2 separate regions of the Homo sapiens genome follow, and region 2 is linked to region 1. Evidence: fine-mapped expression QTL. Tissue or cell type: blood mononuclear cells. Region 1 holds a variant in brackets; the other region holds the start of a gene. All regions are shown on one strand. Distances are from middle to middle.

The links. PIP is the estimated chance that this variant, and not a neighbour inherited with it, causes the effect.
Region 2: it holds the start of XRN1, and the variant in region 1 is fine-mapped to the expression of XRN1 in blood mononuclear cells (TOPMed, PIP above 0.99).

The regions. Positions count from the first base shown.
Region 1 is chr3:142,383,029-142,391,235 of GRCh38, reverse strand. It overlaps XRN1 (5'-3' exoribonuclease 1), which reads left to right. Exons shown (of 41, transcript NM_001282857.2): 21 at 6,551-6,713; 22 at 7,823-7,936. Among named protein-coding and RNA genes, the nearest start is that of XRN1, 61 kb to the left of the region's middle. The variant A/T (reference allele first, on the strand shown) is at 3,727.
Region 2 is chr3:142,444,477-142,452,654 of GRCh38, reverse strand. XRN1 (5'-3' exoribonuclease 1) reads left to right here and starts at 4,618. Exons shown (of 41, transcript NM_001282857.2): 1 at 4,618-4,785. The coding sequence starts at 4,711. It overlaps ATR (ATR checkpoint kinase), which reads left to right. Exons shown (of 47, transcript NM_001184.4): 47 at 3,053-3,420. The coding sequence ends at 3,226. It also overlaps the pseudogene EIF2AK1P1. RefSeq lists enhancers at 4,621-4,900, 6,433-6,792.

The DNA of each region.
Region 1 (8,207 bases):
ATTTTTTTTTACAAATTAGAGGCTTGCGACAACCATGTTGCAACTCTATCAGTGCCATTTTTTCCAACAGTATGTGCTCACTTCATGCCTGTGTGTCACATTTTGGTAATTCTCACAATATTTCAAACTTTATTATTGTTATTTTTATATCTGTCATGGTCATCTATGATCAGTGATTTTTAATGTTACTATTGTAATTGTTTTTGGTCACCATCAACCATGCCCATTTGAGATGGTGAATTAATCAATAAATGTTGTGTGTGTGCTGACTGCTCTACCAACCAACGGTCCCCTAGTCTCTTTCTCTTTCCCTATTCCATGAGACATAGCAATATTGAAATTAGGCCAGTTAGTAGCCCTACAATGTCCTCTTAAGTAGTCAAGTGAAAGGAAGAATCACATGTTTCTAGGTTTAAATCAAAAGCTGGAAATGATTAAGCTTAGTGAAGAAGGCATGTCAAAAGCTGATACAGGCCAAAAGCTAGGCTTCTTGCACCAAATAGTTGTGAATACAAAAGAAAAATTCTTGAAGGAAATCAAAAGTGCTACTCCAGTGAATACACCAATGATAAGCAAATTAAACAACCTTATTGCTAATATGGAGAAAGTTTTAGTGGTCTGGATAGAAGATGACACTAGTCACAGCATTCCCTTAAGCCAAAGGTTAATCCACAGTAAGGCCCTACCTTTCTTCAATTCTATAAAGGCTGAGAGAGGTGAGGAAGCTGCAGAAGAAAAGTTTGAAGTAAGCAGAGGTTGGTTCATGAAGTTTAAGGAAAGAAGCCATCTTCATAATATAAAGTGTGAGCTGAAGCAACAAATGCTAATGTAGAAGCTGTAGTGAGTCATCCAGATCTAGCTAAGATTGTTGATGAAGATGGCTACACTAAACAACAACCCTAGACAAAACAGCCTTCTATTGGAATAAGATGCCATCCTGGACTTCCATAGGTGCAGAGGAGAAGCCAATGCCTGGCTTCAAAGCCTCAAAAATCAGGTTAACTCTCTTGTTAGGGAAAAGTGCAACTGGTTACTTTAAGTTGAACCCGGTGCTCATTGACCATTCTGAAAATCCTGGGGCCTTTAAGAATTGTGCTAAATCTATGCCTGTGCTCTATAAATGGAACAGCGAAGTCTGAATGACAGCACATCTGTTAACAGTGTGGTTTACTGAATATGTTAAGTCCACTCTTGAGACCTACTGGTCATAGTAAAAGATCCTTTCCAAATATTACTGTTCATTGACAGTGCACCTGATCAACTGAGAGCTCTGATGGAGATATGCAAGGAGATAATGTTTTCACACATGCAAACACAACATCCATTCACGCATGCAAACACAACATCCATTCTGCAACCCATGGACTAAGGAGTACTTTGAACTTTCAAGTTTTAGTAGTTAAGAAATACATTTTTGGCCGGGCACAGTGGCACATGCCTGTAATCCCAGCACTTTGGGAGGCTGAGGTGGGTGGATCACCTGGGGTCAGTAGTTCGAGGCCAGCCTGGCCAACATGATGAAACACTGTCTCTACTAAAAATACAAAAATTAGCTGAGCGTGGTGGCGGACACCTGTAATCCCAGCTACTTGGGAGGCTGAGGCAGTAGAATCGCTTGAACCTGGGAGGCAGAGGTTGCAGTGAACCAAGATCACACCACTGCACTCCAGCCTGGGCAACAGAGCGAGACTCTGAGTGACTGCTCTGATGGATCTGAGCAAGGTGAATTGAAAACGTTCTGGAAAGGATTCACTATTATAGATGCCATTAAGAACATTCATGATTCATGGGATTTCAAAGTATCTATCAACATTAGCAGGAATTTGAAAGAAGTTGATTCCGACCCTCCTATATGACTTTGAGAGGTTCAAAACTTCAGTGGAGGAAGTAACTGCAGATGTGGTGGAAATAGCAAAAAAAAAGCTAGAATTAGAAGTGGAGCCTTAAGATGGAAATGAATTGCTGCTTTCTCATGATAAAACTTGAATGGATGAGGAATTGCTTCTTTGTTTTGTTTTGTTTTGAGACAGAGTCTCGCTCTGTCACCCAAGCCAGAGTGCAGTGGTGCGATCTCGGCTCACTGCAACCTCCACCTCTTGTGTTCAAGCTATTCTCGTGCCTCAGCCTCCTGAGTAGCTGGGATTCAGGCAAGCGCCACCATACGCAGCTAATTTTTTATATTTAGTAGAGACAGAGTTTTGCCATTTTGGCCAGGTTGGTCTCAAACTCGTGCTCTCAAGTGTCCACCTGCCTTGGCCTCCCAACGTGCCAAAGTGCTTAGATTATAGGCATGAGCCAATGCACCCGGCCAAGAGTAGCTTCTTATAGATGAACAATGAAAGTGGTTTCTTGAGATGGAATCTACTCATAGTGAAGATGCTGTGAACATTGTTGAAATGACAGCAAAGGATTTAGGATATTACATAAATTTAGTTGAAAAGCAGTGGCAGACTTTGAGAGCATTGACTCCAAGTTGGAAAGAACTTCTCTTGTGGGTAAAATGCTATAAAATAGCATTGCATTCTGCAGAGAAATCTTTCATGAAGAGTCAGCTGATACAGCAAACTTTATTATTGTCTTATTTTCAAAAATTGCGTCAGCCATCCCAACCTTCATCGGCCACTGCCCTGACTAATCAACAGCCATCAATATCAAGGTGAGACCCTCCACTAACAAAAAGTTAACTACTAATAGCCTACTGTTAGCATTTTTGAGCAATAAAGTACAGTTGATCTTTGAACAGTGTGGGAGGTAGGGGTGCTGACCCCCAATACAGTAAAAAAAATGCACATACAACTTTTGACTCCCCAAAACTTAACTGCTAAAAGCCTACTGTTCATCAGAAGACTTGCCGATAACATAAGTAGTTGATAACGCATATTTTGTATATGTATTATATAGTGTGTTCTTACAATAAAGTAAGATAGAAGAAAATGTTATTATAAAATCATAAGAGAAATATATTTACTATTAATTAAGTGGTAGTGGTTGATCATAACAGTTTTCATCTTCGTCTTCATGTTGAGTAGGCAGAGGAGGGGTTCATCTGCTGTCTTGGAGGTGTTAGAGGAGGAGGAAAATCTGCATGTAAGTGGACCTATGTCATTCAAACCTGTGTTTTTCAAGTGTCAGCTGTATTTGAAAATGAAAGTATTGTCTTAGCCCAGTCTGAGGCTGGGTAATTTATAAAGAAAAGAGGTATGTTTGGCTCAAAGTTCTGCAGACTGCACAAGAAGTATGGCATCAGCATATGTTTCTGGTAAGGGCCTTAGGAAGCTTCCACTCATAGCAGAAGACAAAGAGGAACAGGCGTGTACAGATCACATGGCAAGAAAAGAAGCAAGAGAGGGGTAGGGAGGGAGGTGCCAGGTTCTTTTTAACAGTCAGTTCTCATGGGAACTAGTAGAGTGATAAACCCCCGTATCCTCCTCATTGCAAGGAAGACAGCAGCAAGCCATTTATGAAGGATCCACCCCATGACCCAGACATCTCTCACCAGGCTCCATCTCCAACATTAGGGATTGGATTTCAACGTGAGACTTGGTGAAGTCAAACAAACTATATCCAAACCATAGTAGATATATACATTTTTTAAAGACATAATGCTATTATACACTTAATAGACTCAGTGTAAACATAACTTTGGTATGTACTGGGAAACAGAAAAATTCATGTGACTCACTTTATTGTGGTGGTCTGGAACTGAACCTGAAATGTCTCCCAAAG[A/T]ATGGCTGTATACATATGGAGCAAAAAATACTTGCGAATTATAGGTGTATTAATCATAAGTATATTACTTGATGAATTTTCACATGTGGAACAAGAATACAAGTCAAGAAACAATAACAGGAATATTACCATAATCCAAGGAAGTCCCTTGTACACCCTTTTATCCATTACCATCCGCTGCTCCCTCCCCACCCCCAGTGACGAGGATAACCATTTTGACTTGTAACCACATACATTTGTGTTTTCTATTTTTGAACTTTATGCAGTATAAGTTCATTCACACAGAGTGTATTCTTCTTGAGCCTGATTTCTTTTGGTCAGTATTGTGATTCTAATATCCATATTGTTACATGTAATCATAGTTTGTTCATTTTCACTAATGATACTATTACATTGTATGAATACAGCACAATTTTTCCATTCTACAGTGGATGGATATTTGAGTTGTTTCTCATTTGGGGCTCTTGGTGAACGTGTATATATGCATTCCTTTTGGGTATATGTCTATGCATTCCTTTTGGGTATATATCTAAGAGTAGAATTACTGCTTCATAGCATATGCCTACATTCAGCTTGAACAGATACTACCAAAAAGGTTTGCAAACTCTTTGTATCAATTTACGCTCTACCAGCAGTTTATAAGAACTTATGTTGATTTCTGTTTTCATAAGTACTTACTATTGCTTTTTCATTTTAGCCATTTTGGTATAGTAGTAGTATCTCATTTTGCTTTAATTTGCATTTCCCTGATGACTAATAAAATTGAACATCCTTTCGTGTTTGTTGGCCATTTGAATATGCATACTCTTTTGTGAAATGCCTGTTCAAGTCTGTTGCCCTTTTTAAAATTGGGTTGATTATCTTTTTCTCATTACTTTATAGTTTTCTTACTGGCTTATTGTGTCATTCTCAATTTCAGGGGAAAACTAAGTAATTTATCTTTAAATAAAATTATCACTGTAGCTTGTTTTTAATTACTGTTCTTTATCAGGTTAAGGAAATTTCCTTCTATTCTGATTAAGAGTTTTTATCATTAATTGGTGCTGATTTGTAAAATGTTTTTTCCGCAGCTGTCAAACTGATTATATTATTTTTATCCTGTTAATCTGATGAATTGCATTGATTGAATTTCCAATATTAATCTACCCCTAAATTTCTGGAATAAATCCCATTTATTTATGATATATTATCCTTTTATACATAATTGGATTTTATCTGTTTAAGTTTGTTTTAAGATTTTTGCATCTACTTTCATGAGAAATACTGGCCCATAATTATAAAGATTTCCTGAAATGTCCTGGTCAGCTGTTGATATCAAGATTACTGGCTAAATGACTTTTAAGTGAAAGTGGTAGAAAAAAATTCTAATAAATTTTTAGAAAATGGTGTGTTTCAAAAATTTGTTGGAAAACTTTTGTTTCTGGCTAAGGTGACATGACTTTTTTCAGACCAACTTTGCCATAGACAACATTATTAAAGTATAAGCTGATGTGAAAAAATATATAACGTGTTATATAATTATATACTATATTATATGCTATTTATATAGTCTATATTATATACTATTTTTATGACATATTTGTATAAACAAAACTTTTAAAGTGTGATTGGTAAAGTGAGCTCGGTAGATGGACTGAGTAGTAATACGGGCATACTAAAAATTGAATCAGTGAGCTAAATGATCAACCTTAGGAATTCCTTCAGTAAGCAGTACAAAAGCACAAAGAGATGAAAATAATATCAGAATTTTAATATCTATCTATTAGGAGTTCTAGAAAGAGAAAATGGAAAGGAGATAAGAAAGTATTCCTTAAATGAAGAATGATTATATATTTAGATGAAAGGTCAGCAAACTTCTTCTGTAAAGGGCAAATAGTAAATATTTTAGGCTTTGTAGACTTTACAATGTCTGTCACAACTACTCAACTTTACCATGTAGCGCAAAAGCAGCCATAGACAGGAAGTAAATGGATAACTATGTTCCAGTAAACTTTTATCTAAAAAACTAGGAGGCTGTCTGAATTACTTTAGATTGGAAAAGCCATCACATACTCCTGGCAACCCCCAATCTATTTTCTGTCTTCATGGATTTACCTATTTTAGATGTTTCATATAAATGGAATCATATGATATATGGCCTTTTGTATCAGGCTTCTTTCATTTAGCATGCTTTCGAAGTTCATACACATTGTAGCATGTGTCAGTGCTTATTCCTCTTTATGGCTGAATAATATTCCATTGTATGGATATGCCACTGTTTGTTTATCCATTTGTTCATTTATGAACATTTGGATTGTTTCTACCTTTTGGCTATTTGAATAGTGGTGCTATGATCATTTGTGTATCAATATTTGTTTGAGTACCTGTTTCCAATCCGGGGGGGTTGGAATGCTTAGAATTGTTGGGTCATGTGTTAATTATATGTTGCTTTTTGAGGAACTGCCAAACCGTTTTCCACAACAGCTGCACCATTTTACAGTCCCACCAGTAATGTACAGATGTTCCAGTTTTTCCATGTCATCACCAAAACTTATTTTTTTCCCTGTTTTTTAATTATAACGATCCTAGTGGATGTGAGAACAGGAGTTTTGTATAGCTCTATGAGTTCTTATTTAATCACAGAGACAGTTGGAGAAGTACCCACAGAGTAAAATAAATAATGCAAAAAGTCTCAAGTTAGGTACCTGGAACTGCTAGCGTATTTATTTAAAGTTTATTTACACACTTGATTATGAGTTGATAGTTTACGATAGTTGACGATTATCGTCCTAGAATATCTGCATACTCATTCATATGTATATTTCATGTTTATTCTTTATTTTAGCTACCTGAGAAGAAAAGGAATAATAATAAATGAAACATCTGCAGTTGTGTATGCTCAGTTACTCACAGGTCGTAAATATCAAATAAATCAAAATGGTGAAGTTCGTCTAGAGAAACAGTGGTCAAAACAAGTTGTTCCTTTTGTTTATCAAACTATTGTCAAGGTAAGTCTATATCAAGTTTCAATTCTGTCTTAATATACACTATTAATACACTATTCACTGTATAATGAAAAGATATGTTAATATAAATAGACTAATTCAGCAATGTATAATAGAGATTATCATTTAATATAATTTACAAAATAACTTATTATTTGTAAGAAGTATTACATGCTCAGACACTCAGTATATATAGTTAGGAAACTTGTCTTTTATGCTTTCGTATGCTTTTTTTTTTTTCTTTTTTTTTTTTTGAGACAGAGTCTCGCTCTGTTGCCCGGGCTGGAGTGCAGTGGCGCCATCTCGGCTCACTGCAGGCTCCGCCTTCTGGGTTCACGCCATTCTCCTGCCACAGCTTCCCGAGTAGCTGGGACTACAGGTGCCCGCCAGCACACCTGGCTAATTTTTTGGTATTTTTTAGTGGAGATGGGGTTTCACCATGTTAGCCAGGATGGTCTCAATCTCCTGACCTCGTGATCCACCCACCTCGGCCTCCCAAAGTGCTGAGATTACAGGCGTGAGCCACTGCGCCCAGCCTTTTATGGTTTTTTTTAAGGACTTAGACTCTAAAAGAAAAAATCCCACCATTAACTTACACCCTTGAATTTTATATTTTTATTCTTCAAAAATGTTTGCCTTAAATCTTATAAATGTAAAAGGCATTTTATTTTTGCATTTATAATCTTAGATACGATAAGAGGACAAAAATTTTTTTAAGTATGTAGCGATCCTGTAATTTGGGGTGTTATAGTACAGTGTAGTGATTAAGTGACTTAAGAACACTGGCTGCCTGAGTTGGCTTCTTAGCTGCATGACCTTGGACAAGATTCATCCCCTTTCTGTGCCCCAGTTTTGTCATCTGTAAAGTGAGGCTAATAATGGTCTCTGCCACAGAGGTTTGTCATGAGGATTAAATGAACTCAATAAATGTGTGAAGCACATAGAAGGGTGCCTGCCATATAACCAGTCAACAAATTTTAGCTCTTGGCATTATGTAGAAAAATCTTCACATTGACATTTGCAAACAGCATAGTCATAATCCCATAGGAAAAAAACTTGATACGCAATCTATAGAAATTATGACTAAGATTATTTACTTTTATTTTATGTAGGACATCCGAGCTTTCGACTCCCGTTTCTCCAATATCAAAACATTGGATGATTTGTTTCCTCTGAGAAGTATGGTCTTTATGCTGGGAACTCCCTATTATGGCTGCACTGGAGAAGTTAGTTTCCATTATTGTTACTGATACATTTTTCTCTAGTTTAAAGCAGTTACTTAACTTCTCTTCATTTAGGTTTAAATTAAAATATAATAATGAAGGGAAAAAATAAAGAATTTATCCATGTAACTTATGAACACAGTGTTTGACTTATATATCTAAATACTATATATCTAAGACTAAAGACCATATACTTTTAGTCTTGAGCAGATTAGGATCAAGAGGTGGTGTGTTCAAATCCTGATCTCTTTTTTTTTAGCAGTTTTGTTTATTG
Region 2 (8,178 bases), 61 kb before region 1:
TCATCCAGGCTGGAGTACAGTGGCACGATCTTGGCTCACGGCAACCTCTGCCTCCTGGGTTCAAGCAGTTCTCCTGCCTTAGCCTCCCAAGTAGCTGGGATTATAAGCGTGCACCACCACAGCTGGCTAATTATTATATTTTTAGTAGAGATGGGTTTCACCATGTTGGCCAGGCTGGTCTTGAACCCCTGGCTTCAAGTGATCCACCCACCTCAGCATCCCAAAATGCAGGGATTATAGGCATAAGCCACTGTGCCTAGCTCAGATAGTTGTTTTTAATAAGTTAGAATAGATTGAGGATTCGTTTTTTTTGGTGGGGGGCACTCTTACATCTTTAATAAGTCTTGTACAGGCTTACTAAATACAATGAATTATACCAACTATATGCTAATAAAGATTAAAAATTTACATTCCAGTTAACTACCTAAAGAGTTTAAGTCCACTTTCATCCTACTGATATAGCTCGAGGAAGGCTAGACCTGTACGCCCCCATCCTTCATGTCATCCTTAACCCTTTGTCTTGAGAAAGAAGGTTTAGCTGCTTCTTTAGTTCTTCTAAAAGAACTAAAAGAAAAATTTCTTTTTCTTGCTCTATTATCTTCATCTGTAGGGTGAGATTAATATTTCCAGAATTGTGGAAAAATTCACTCTGTAGCAGTTGAAGAGCAGATGGTCTCTGGGACATGTTCCTTTTCGTTAAGTGATAGATATACTTGGCTTGTACTGGATACCTTTTACTGAGGGATTCCAATATCTGACCAGTTCTTGAACCTGTTAAAACTTCTGCTCGCTCCATTTCTGTTCTAAACAGCTGAAAGAGCTCTAGCAGGATCACACTCAAGCTATATACATATCTAACTGGACAAAGCCAGCCCTGGTCTCTACAAATAGTTTTTGTTTTTTTTTAATTAGCTGGGCTCAGTGGCACACTCCTGTAGTCCCAGCTACTTGGGAGGCTGAGGTGGGAGGATCACTTGACCCCAGGAGTTGGAGGCTGCTGTGAGCTATGATGACACCACTGCACTCCAGCCTGGGCAACAGAGTGAGACCCTTGGCATCATACTCAGATCCTTCCAACTGCTGGGATGAAGCATACAGACAAGTGCCCACTCTGGATATAGGTGTTGGTGTTCTCTTTCTGTTTCTATGGGTCCAGTCTGTGTTCTTTTGTAAGATGTCTGGGCAAGCCAGACCAAAGTCTCCTATTTTTACTTGCTGATCAGGGCCATGAAGAAAAATATTTCTAGGCTTCAGATCTCTGTTTACAATACCCATGTTATGTATGTAAAACACACCTTCCACTAAATCTTGAAAATTTTTTGTTGCAACACTGGCCATAAGGACAGGCAAACTTGCCCACACACTCTTGGCCCTGTTTGTTTCTCTCAGCTAGCCAGTCCCACAGCTGGAGCTTGCACACCTGCATCTGGATGTGCAGCATCAGGTGGTACTGCACCTCGATCCCCAACAAGTTGAAGTTTTCTTTGGAAGATTCCTCAGTGGATGTGAAATTCTCCTCTAGGAGGGAATTACACCTGAGCAGCAGGGGCTGTTTCACAATTGACCAGGTAGACAAACCAGCCAGGCCATTTTCCTGGAGCTCCAGGGATGATTCATATTCACTGGTGTCTCTTAAGACGGAATTGATGGTGTAGTTCACAGCTTGTTGTTCTGATTTTGAGTGTCAGATTCTGCAAAGGGTTTTTCTTTTCTGAGGTGAGCTCCGCGAAGATAATGGGTGAGCTGCTATTTTCACCATTTTTAACACCGTATTGGTATCTGTCTGCTTGGTCGGAGAACACTTCCAGAAATGGCAACTGAACGGAAGCTCTGTCTGCTTGTGGTTGGACCACTTGAACATGTTCTGTCCACGCAGTGTGATAACGAATGATATTAGGGTGCTGAAGACCTGCCAGCACCTTCATTCCCCGTAGTTCTTTCATGTAATGTGTTTTTGTTGCACCCTTAATCAGGATTTTTTAAATTGCATAATACTGACCATCTAATTTATTCCTGACCTTGTATACTCTTCCATATCCACCTTTTCCTAAGATGGCAAGTTCTTCAAATTCATTTAAGTAACGTGAAGTTTGTGCTTCAAAGGGTACTTCCCTTGATCTGATTTTCTGGATATGAGAAATAGCCTCACAAGGATCCTGATGAACTCTCTCTTTAGTGGACCTCATTAAGTGAGTAATAGCTCTGTGGTGATGTAGTCTCAATGAGCTAAACTTGTCACAAGTGAAAGAAGACAGCAGCCCCATTTTGATAAAGGTCTGGCAAAGTAACTTAAACACTGTCTTGAATGAACTGGGTTTGGTTCACGCACATGGCTCAAGTGCTTCACCAAAGAAATAAGCGGCAGCTGGTTTGCAACTGCAAAAGGGAAAGTTGGCTGTTGTAGGGGTTATTTTAATACCTGGAGTTCTGCTGGAACATAAGTCATATTTGGAGTCCAGGCTCTTGGCGGAAAAGTCGATGGCAGATGGCACAGCAACAGTCTCCACCCCGTGGCCCTCCTCTTTGTGCTCGTGGGCTGCAGCGCAGCCCACCAGCCCACCCAGCACCACCTCTGAGAATTATTCTTCTAATAACGTTATTCTTCCTTTTGCATTCAGATATGCTTAAGAAATTGTACAGTTCCAAGTAGCTCACTTAGAACACCCATTTGCATGTACTAACATAATGTAAATATTAGGCAGTACAGCATTGTTATTTGAATATTCATTGAAATGTTTAAGTCCTAAACACTTCCAAAGCAGATTTAAAAAATTATTTTTCTAGAATTGTAATGTGTAAATAATTCCCTGGTATTTCACGTAGTCCAGAAACATGTCCAAGCAGTTGATGTTGAATCAATCTTGCGAGCCTCCAAATCAGTATCACAAGCTAACTGTATTTGTTTAATTTCTTCTTTTCCTGTATTTGCTCTTACAAAAGGGGTATTGGTCAGTAAAATGGTATTAACATTTATTAAATGTCAAAATATAAAGAAAGGTAGTAATTCCAAATTATTAACATCTGTTTTTGGTTTTATGTTTCTTCTTTTTAGGCCAAGACCCATGTTCTTGACATTGAGCAGCGACTACAAGGTGTAATCAAGACTCGAAATAGAGTGACAGGACTGCCGTTATCTATTGAAGGACATGTGCATTACCTTATACAGGAAGCTACTGATGAAAACTTACTATGCCAGATGTATCTTGGTTGGACTCCATATATGTGAAATGAAATTATGTAAAAGAATATGTTAATAATCTAAAAGTAATGCATTTGGTATGAATCTGTGGTTGTATCTGTTCAATTCTAAAGTACAACATAAATTTACGTTCTCAGCAACTGTTATTTCTCTCTGATCATTAATTATATGTAAAATAATATACATTCAGTTATTAAGAAATAAACTGCTTTCTTAATACATACTGTGCATTATAATTGGAGAAATAGAATATCATGTGTTCTTATGGTCAAAAACTATATTTGCAAGAAACAAGCAAGTCTAATTTCATTTTACAACTTCTATTGATTTCCTTTTAAAAGTCCTAGCTATTGTAAGGATTCACTTGAAGAACAAAATTATATGGAATAAATACTGTGGGCAAGGCGTTGTGCCAGACTTGTGCATAGAGCTACCCTCTCCTGCCCTCCAGGAAGTGACAGTCTAGTAAGAGAGATATATAAATATAAATAGCATATCATTAAGTTCACTTAATAAAACTTTGTTTTAAAGTGTGATAGGGAAAAAATATAAGCCAAGAAGCGTGAATGTGAAAACGAAATAAACATTCTGTAATTTGTGTGATGCTGCCATACTGCAGTCCCAGAATGCAGAATCCAGTGGTCATGAAAGACAGCGATACTTAACATTTCCTGAGATCTTAAAATCCAAAAAGTATTAAATGTTTAAGGTTTTTCTGTAAGTTTTCATCCAGAAGACTTAAATACAAAGTAACGGGTTAATACATTCAAATAAGTGGAAAACTCTTACATTTAAAACTGATAATTTCACTTAAGTTGATAGAACTCTCCTTTGCTGTGCGGTTGAAAGTGTGATGGGGAAAAATATGATAAACCCGGATGCAAGAATGTCAAAACTAAACATTAAATGATTTCGTATCCAAGGTCTTATGTTAACAGTTGCGGGGGGCGGGTACATGGGAAATTTTTTTGAACAATTTGGAAAAGAACGTTTTTAAACGTATGTATTAAGAAACGTAAGTTTAAATTCCTCAGAGAAAAAAAATTATTGACAAAACAACAAACTAAGCCAAGTAAATCACCAGATCTTTCGAAATCTGAATGAAAAATACTGAGATTAGCAACCCTAGGAGACAAGCGGAACAAAAATCAGTGTTCGATACCCTTCCCACACCTTCGTACGGTTTTCATGCCACTTCCAAATCCACTTAGAAAGCACAACTCTATCATGGGGCATTTTCGCCCCTAAGTTGCAACACACCAGCAAACCTCCGCAGATTCCCTGACCGCCACTGGACAGTACCGCGGCCCCGGCCGCGCGAGGCCCGGAGGGCTAAGCCCCGCCCCTCGGACGGCCTCGGATCCTGCCGCTCTAGGCCCGCCGGGCGCTCTCTATGGTCGGCCGGGCGGTGTGTTGTCATCCGCGGAGCGACGACCGGAGGCTGCGGCGGAGCCCCGGCGGGGCGTTTGGTTTCGGTTTGGCCCTGACTGGGATTAGTGTTGACGATCGAAATGGGAGTCCCCAAGTTTTACAGATGGATCTCAGAGCGGTATCCCTGTCTCAGCGAAGTGGTGAAAGAGCATCAGGTGGGTGAGCGAGGGGCAACGGCTCAGAAAGCCGAGGACCCGGGGCTCCGCGGCCCTCTCCACCTTAGAGCTGGGGCTTTCGAGCCACCTCTTTCCCCTCGTCGTCTGGACGATTAGTGGCATTAGGGAGGGGGACGGAAGGTTTGAGGACGCCCGGATGAGCCGAAAGGGGCTAAGGACGCAGGTTGCCTGTGTGTGGACAGAGCCGCTGGGTTCACGGCTTCTCTGACAGCTCTTGCTTCTGCTGGTCCTTCCGCGACTCCGAAATGAAGTCCTGGGAAAGAACGCTTTTACTGTTCTCCGGTTTCCTCCCGGGGAGCTGCAAGTTGCCTTTTTCCTTACAGAGGCTGCGAAGCTGGAGTGGGTGTCCTCGTAGGTTCCCCCATCCCACCCAGAGCGGCAGACCCACTTACAGACGATAACAGCCGCTTCCGCACGCAGTCACCTTGTTTACTTTCCCTGATCTAGAGCGCGGCCCACCCGGCCCCCGGAGCCTAGACTTTCCGACGTGGCTGATGGTCATATTGGTGATGCCTTTTGTTACTTTCTGTTATTTCAAAAGCAGCACCAATCCCCTGTTGCCAAAACAAAAAACTCTTGGGCCAGCTGGGGAGTGGGGCGTAGGACCTTTTATTTGGAGGCCTCACTGTGTGACAGAGGGGGTTGGGAAACGAATTGATAGAACATTAATACTACTAATAATATTTGGCATGTACTGACCCCAGGACAACGTTAATGTGTAGATTCCGAAAACGTAGTTTATATATTGGAACTGTGGAAAGAGAGGAGAAAGCAGTCGTCTATTAGGTAAACTAGACTTTGGGTGATACTTTGGTGTTTGTCACATTTAATGAATTTGATCTCTTTTCTGATGCTTTACAGAAAAAAAGCTTGAAATTTGTGTAGCTGATTGAATCAGTTGTGATGGGTAGTATTGTAAATAGCCTATTAAATTATGGTTTAATCGGCATTTACGAACATGAAGGTAGTTTACTTCTGGAAAGGAGTTTTTGTTGCTGGATTCCAATCAGATTTGGTAGATGAGAAATAGACTACAAAAAGTTTCCAAGGTTAGCTTATCTTGAATTTATTTGAAACATAGATTGAGTTAGGTTTAGAGAGGTATTTTTTTCCCCCGGGGAGGGCTAAAAAGGAAACCAGTACATTGCAGAAATGGAGACAACCAACTTTGGCTTTTCTTGCATCCTTCAGTCAGTACCTGCTATATATCAGTCACTTTATCTCTAAAGTGCAAAAATAATGCGATTGTTATTCGTGATGATTTAATACATAATTTGTTCAGTAATATTTTTATTCTGTAGTCTGTGGCACAGAATTTGGTTTGGTGAAAATATCTTAGATTCTCTCCATCCTGAGGAATTTTGTTACTGAAGAATGAAAATCTCTTTAATGCAGTTTTATGACATGGACACTAAGGATAGGTTTTGTGAAAGCTTTATATAGAAACTGGGAGGAGAATTATTTTTAAATTTCACTGTAAATAAATTTTAAAATTTGGTTCATTGTTGTGATACCTTTCAAAAATGTTTGATTAAAAAGAGACCAAAGGTTATCAGCTTCTCTGTTAAGTAGAACTTAAAGATGGTAATGCCTAAATAAGTCACAGGCATTCAAAAGCTAGTCCTGGGCGGGAAGGATAGGGAGAAGAAGTAAGTTACGGGAAGTCAGTGGTGTGGCCTCAGTAGCATAGGTTTTCAGTTTCTCTGAATCATCTTGTAAAAACAGAAAGAGAAACTAGAAACCAAAGTTTAAAATCCATAAAACAATTACAACAAACCATGTGACATGCTATCCCCATGAAACTCAAAACATAACTAGGTGAGGCAAACTATCAATAGTCTCTAGACACCGTTGATATTGCCATCTGTGCAAAAGCGAGAAGGAAGCAATGGGGCAACATCTGATGAACCTTAGAACAGAATTCCAGAATAGCCAGCGGTATCCACTAAAAGACTGTGCTGGCCAATTAGATAGCGGTAGCTGAAACAGAGGAGTTTTATTCACTCCATTATTGACTGGGTGAAGGTCTACCATAAGAAAGACCAAACAGGCAGGAGTAGTCTACCTCCTGTGAACACTCAAAACTGACTTGCCAAGGTGCCATTCTAGACCAGAGCCCTAAGGAAAAGGGAGTGGAATAAAGTCTTACGGAAATGTTATGCTGGAAGTGGAATAAAATTTTATGAAAGGGACAATAGAGACAAGAAGAGAAGGAGATAGACCATATAAAAGTGAGGCAAAGTCATAGAATCAAGAAATCTTAGAAAACAAACCACAAAGCAAACCACTGTATTTTTTAACACTACCCAGAAACAGCTTTGTGAACTTATATTCCCTGAACCTCTACTCATTCTAAAAGTTCAAGAAAATTAAATTCACATAAAAATGAGCTACAGAAAGGTATTGAGATCAAATTACATACAAAGTTATTATACGAGAAAAAGGGACAGAGTATCTCTCCAGACATAAAAACTTGCAATGAAAAAAATGCACACAAAATAGACCAAAATTATAACCAAAACTATTATCTATTTCACAATGAGTTAAAAGGCATTAAGAAAATGAGGTAAGACATGAAAGAACAACGTGTATCAATTATGAAAATGTGAGAATGAGATGACAGAGAAAGTTAGAAGTAAATGAAAAAAAAATGCAGAGCTGAGCCTCAAATAGAAGCAAGACGAGCAAATGATACCATTTGAGAAAACAATCGGCAGTGGAAAGATGAAATTTTAAAAAATAAAATAGATTTAAAAGATTCAAGAAAAAGTAACGATAAGAAAGATAGGCAAAGAAGACAAATAGTAGAGGTGCCTGAAAAAGAAAAAACCAAAGCAGCATAACAGAATGGGTACTCAGTAAATATTTTTTGAGTGAATTAATTTATTAGCTATAGCATATAGCATATAGAAATGCATATTAAAATAGACATGGTATATTAGTATGTTGTAAAACAGTATTTTTTAAAAAAGTGAAATGAAGCCTGGGATTATTATGATTATTTTTTTTTATGAAACATAGTGTATATACTTATGGGGTTCATGAGATGTTTTCGTACAGGCATGCAGTGTGTAATAATCATATCATGGAGAATGGAGTATCCATCCACTCAAGTATTTATCCTTTGTGTTAAAATCTAATTACACTCTTTTAGTTGTTTTTAAATTATTGCCTATCGTCACCCTGTTGTGCTATCACATAGTAGGTCTTATTCATTCTTTTTTTTTATTTTTTATTTTGGATACAAGGTCGCGCTCTGTCACCCCGGCTGGAGTACAGTGACGCAATCTCGGCTCACTGCAACCCCTGCCTCCCCGGTTCAAGCAAGTCTTGTGCCTTAGCCACCCAAGTAGCTGGGATTAGGCGTGTGCC